Linked DNA regions of Homo sapiens: region 2 is linked to region 1. The links come from fine-mapping of genetic effects on gene expression. Tissue or cell type: whole blood. Region 1 holds a variant in brackets; the other region holds the start of a gene. All regions are shown on one strand. Distances are between the middles of the regions.

Region 1 (2,754 bases):
ACAGACCATGGTTATTTGTATTTTGGTATCCTCAGCATGTATCACAGTGCCAGGTTCATAGTAGGTTTAATTATTATTGTTATTATTATTATTTTTGAGACAGAGTTTTGCTTTTGTTACCCAGGCTGGAGGGCAATGGTGTGATCTTGGCTCGTCGCAACCTCTGCCTCCCGGGTTCAAGCGATTCTCCTGCCTCAGCCTCCCAAGTAGCTGGGATTACACTCATGCACAACCATGCCTGGCTAATTTTGTATTTTTAGTAGAGACGGGGTTTCTCCATGTTGGTCAGGCTGGTCTCGAACTCCTGACCTCAGGTGATCTGCCTGCCTCGGCCTCCCAGAGTGCTGGGATTACAGGTGTGAGCCACTGCGACCAGCCTAATTATTATTGTGAATGCAGGAACTGACAAGGCCCTATGACCTGGGGTGAAAAGAAGGGATTAAGCTCTGGCCTGTAGAGATTCTCTGGCTCTCTTCCTTTCTTTTCATAAGCCAGACTGACTCTTTGGTTGATCCAGCCCTGAAATTGATGGCAGTAAGTCAGGTGGATCTGAAGGCAGAACCTAGCCACCAAGGACAGTGGCAGGGGTGAAGAAGCCACTGAGCTCGGACCATCTTGGGAGTTGAGGTGGAGGTGAAAGCAATGGACATAACTGGTACTACCCAGTGCCCCCGATCCCCAAACCAGGAGAGTTTGAGAAGGGATAGGAAAGCCTGAGTCAATGAGGTTCCAAGGAAGAGACTGGTGACAGGGGCTAGTGGAAATTGTGGGTTGAGGTCAAAGGTCTGGAAGATCGATCCCTACGTTGAATATGGCCATCCAGGCTGGGCACTGTGGCTCACGCCTATAATCCCAGCACTTTGGGAGGCTGAGGCAGGCAAATAGATTGAGCCCAGGAGTTCAAAACCAGCCTGGGCAACATGGCAAAATCCTGTCTCTACAAAAAAACAAAAAAATTAGCCAGGTATGGTGGCACACGCCTGTCGTCCCAGCTTCTCGGGAGGTTGAGGTGGGAGGATTGCTTGAGCCCAGGAGGTCCAGGCTGCAGTGAGCTGTGATCACACTACTGCACTCCAGTAATAGAGTGAGACCCTGTCTAAATAAATAAATAAATAAATAAATAATAAGGCCCTCCAGGGGCCATGTTCTTCCTAACCTGTCCTTAGGAAGTGTTCACATTGTGTAGATGTAGCAGTTTGGTTCACACTGACCCGGGTAATCAGGAAAAGAGGAGAGCCAGAAAG[G/C]GGGGAGGAAGGAGCTCTAGATTCCCAGGTCTATAAGGAGCCACCCTGGGCTGGAATGCTTGGCAGCCTTACTGCCCCAGAATGAAGGGGAAAAAGTCCTGAGTGGCTCCACTATGCCACCTCAGTCTCTTCTTAGGCACAGGCTCCCCCTGGTGGTTACTCTTGTCACTGCCAACTCCACCCATTGCCCTCAAACATGCACACTTGCCCATTTTTAACTAAGAACTGAGGAAGCCTCTGGATGTAGTAAATGGAGCTTCTCTTAGAGCAAGAGAGGAGAAGAGGGAAGGAGAGATTCAAGGAACAGAATTATGGAGAAGGGAAAGGGCCCTGGACTTGTACTAGGATGGTTATCACCCAGAAGAAAGGGGACCTGGGCTGGCAGGATTCTTCGTCTCCAGGATTGGAAGTCTATTCCAGCTACCAACCTGACTTAGATAATTTGGTCCAACTGGGGAGGAAGTTGAGGGCACACAGCAGAGTTTCCTGGGAGGGCATAGCAAGTTCACATTTTATATGAATTTGAAGTACAGGAAGATGCTGGGACTTTTTCAAAATAAATAAAGTCTCACTTAATGCACGAAATGTGAAATAGAGGTGAGCCCCCCCAATAAAAATATTTTCCAGAATCACAATTTCAGGGCTCACAGACCATGAGAATTATAAGCTTTGCTTACACTATTACTGCATGGGTTCCCATTTCTGCTTTAAATAAAAATTCAGGTGGGGAGAGAGAATGAATCGGGCTGTGAGGTCAGGACTGAGTGCCTAGGGTCACTCCCAGTGGTGGATAGAAGACTTAGAGTGCTTTCTCCTGTAATTCCCAAACAGAGGGCCTGGGCCTGGCTCTGAAGGTCTCTGCACAAGAGCAAGACAGGACAGGAGCAAGAACAAAGGCGAGGAGAGACAGAATCAGAGAGATGAGGAAGAAGATGGGGCTGGACTGGATGCAGAGAATGAAAAGGAGAGACAACAGATGGGCATGGGGAGAGGGGCCTAGGAGGGAGAAACAGGGACATTTGCTCACTCTGGGGAGCAGAGGAGGCTCTCAGGTATGAATGCTGGGAGGATGAAGGAAGGCACAGAGAGAAGGTCCTTTGGGGCCTGTCACCAGAATTATGGCCAATGCATAAAGCCAATGGGGCAGCTGAGCTAGATCTGGTCTTCCAGAAGTTTCCATTATCTAGAGAATAGAGGAAAAGGGAAGGAGCTGTGATTGGCTGAGGAAAGGGGAATGGTGACCTCCACCAAGAAAGTGGAAGACCCATCTCATCCTGGGCCTCCTGGAGGCCCTGGAGGAGCAAACTGTTCAGGCTTTACATAGATTTCAGGTCCTCAGGCTTTGGCAGCCATTTGGATTCCAAGGTGATATGCAGTCATCTCAAATTCTATTATTTTTGTTTTATTCTGGAGAAAAGTAGGGAAGGTGGGCATTGCCCTTATCCCTAACAGCCCCAGGCAAGCTCTAGGAACAGCCCGGAGCCTCAGAATTGAGGGGCAGGCCTTTCCT
Region 2 (2,500 bases), 48 kb after region 1:
AGTTTTGGGTCAAGTATTGCTCCCCCAGCTTACCTCTCCACAAATCACTCTATTTCCTAGCCTGCCCTCCCACTAGGGCGGAGATGCCAGACCCAAGGGTCCAATTATCTGGCACCTCTTAGGAGTACCTCCGGTGCCTCAGGAGGGCCAACCTTCCCTGGCAACAGGCAGGAAAAGTTGAAGGTGGGGGGCAAGATGGGCCGCAATCAATACCTCCCTGCAAACAGGGTCCTCAGAAACAGCATGGGGGGGATGTCACAGGATAGGTAAGAGGCAATGGGCAGCAGGGAAGGGGGGGCAGCCCAAACCAGCCAATCACAACTCTATGGTGACCTGAGGGGGGGGGTCAAAAGTCCAGAGTCACTTCTGATTGGCTAACAACCTGGAATTCTGAGAATTTCAGCCCCCCCCAAACCTCTCCCCAATTAGCCTACCCCCAAAAAAACATACACATAAGCCACCCCCAGCGTCTCCTCCCCGTGTTTCTGGGCTGCTGCGCATTTACACAGTTGGGGAAAACGCTACCCGCCAGCCTGAGGCCCCGCGTAGCCCTTCCAGCCCCCGGCTTCCCCCATGCCATCGACGCCCCCCACACAAGTTCTCGCCAAACACGGGGTGAGGGGTCCGCAGGGACGGCTGGGCAGGAAGGGGCCGAGTGGCCGCACGCCCCACTCACCAGGACAGGCACAGCCCACTGACATCTTCACATCGCCCGCCTCTGGGGGCCCAGCCGAGTCACGGTGCCCGCCCCTCGCGGGGACAGGCCGGGCATGAGCCGCCGCCGCCGCCCGCGGCCCCCGCTGCGCTCGCCGCCGGCCCGGCCCGGCCTCGGCCCGGTGCGGGCGGCCCCTGGCTGCGGCGAGGGGCCTGTCAGGCGCGGAGCAGACAGGAAGGAAGCCAGGCAGGAAGGCGAGCGGCCTCTGCGTGTGTGCGCGCGGGTGTGAGTCCGCGGAGTGTGTGTCCGTGTGTGCGTGTGTGCGCGTGTGCGTGTGCGTGTCTGTGCGCTCCCGCCGCCGTCGCCGAGCGCCCCCCTCTCCGCCCTCGCGCTCGCGCTCCCTCGCGCCGGCGCCGGCTCCCCAGCCCAAGCCGGGCAGGGCCGGGCTTTATTAATATGCTAATTGTCCTGCTAGTGGGAGGGGAGAGCCGTGTCAAAGTGACCCGGGAGAGCGCGCAGCAAGCGACGACGTGCGTGCGCCGCGCGGCGGGCGGGCGGCGAGGGGCTGGGAGCGCTCGGGGAACGGCATGCATGTGACGCAGCTTTTAAAAAAGGAGACGGAGGCAGAGACCCCAGAGAGGGAGGGCGAAGGGGAGGGCTTGGAGGCGCAGCCGCGCGCTCGGTGTCCGTCCTCCGGGTGCCGCCGGATGGGGAGTCTGGCTGAGCCGGAGCGGGAGCCGCGGCTGGGGGAGGCGGAGCCGGGGTGGGCAGTGTGGTGTATCTCTCTCCACCCCGGGCCGCGCTCCGGGAGGGAAAAGGGACTGCAGACCCCCTGTCCGTGCTCCCTGCTGAGACGCCAGCCTTCTTCTGGAGGCCCCTTGTTTCGCGTCCCTACCCTAGGCTGGATGGGTAAAGAAGCATTCTCTTAATTCTTGTAGCAACCCCTCAACTCACCCCTTCCCTAAATTAACCACTCCTCCTTTGCCTGCGAAACCAGTTGGGACTAGAACTAAAAGGGTTAATTAAGTGGGGTCCCCGCCCTCCTCCGCCTAAGGGCTTGGGATCTGTGTTTTGCTGGGGGGAGGGGGCTGCGGAATGACCACCAGATTGGATTACGGAGGGGCGATAGGAGGCCATCCTTCCTTCTTGCAGACTGACGCATCAGTCAAGACACTCTCTTCCCTTCCCCCCTTTCTCCAGCCTTGGTGCCTTCACCTCCGTACCAACCGCCCAACCCCACCGCCTCCGACCCCCCTGCCTGGAAGCTGCTGTCCTTTGAGGGCTTCGGAGATGAGAACAGGAAACAGGCCCCTCCAGTGCCCCCTAACCCAGAGAGGCAGAGGCTGTGGGCCGTGGGGGGTTGGATGGGAGATGATGTGGATGGTCAATGTAAGGAACACTCCTTCCCCTGGGAGGAGCCTCCCAACCTTCAGTCACACTTCAAGGACTCCCCAACCCAGCCCTAGGAGGGGAGGGGCTCCATCTCCATCCCTTCCCAAAAGCTCAGCTTTAGCTGCCTCATAAACAGGAAATACCTATTAGCCAGGAGGAGGGAAGGGAGGGGAGCCGCCTGGAGTAGAGAGTTGACCCCCTCCCTCCTGGGGTCCCCAGCTGCTAGCTTTTCTTTCTTAAGTTTCAGTATGGGCTCCAGGGATAGACGATGGAGACTTGGACTAGTGTCTCCTCCCTAGGGCGTCTGGCCCTGACTGGGTAGGGGGTTCTCCTCTTTGTTACTTAGAGGGGTGTTGGTTGAGAAGGCTGTTTGGTTCCCTCACTCTGGCTCAGAGTCTGCACAGCTGGCTTGACTGGCTGGGGGAGGGTTACAAATGCGGAGGCTTAAAGTGT

The links. PIP is the estimated chance that this variant, and not a neighbour inherited with it, causes the effect.
Region 2: it holds the start of LDB1, and the variant in region 1 is fine-mapped to the expression of LDB1 in whole blood (INTERVAL, PIP 0.97).

Annotation. Positions count from the first base shown.
Region 1 is chr10:102,071,688-102,074,441 of GRCh38, forward strand. No RefSeq gene overlaps it. Among named protein-coding and RNA genes, the nearest start is that of HPS6, 7.7 kb to the left of the region's middle. The variant G/C (reference allele first, on the strand shown) is at 1,245.
Region 2 is chr10:102,119,410-102,121,909 of GRCh38, forward strand. It overlaps LDB1 (LIM domain binding 1), which reads right to left and starts at 959. Exons shown (of 11, transcript NM_001113407.3): 1 at 677-959. The coding sequence starts at 701. It also overlaps a transcript of PPRC1 not described here. RefSeq lists silencers at 599-668, 759-838, 899-1,198, 1,219-1,348 and enhancers at 845-1,596, 1,597-2,348, 2,349-2,500.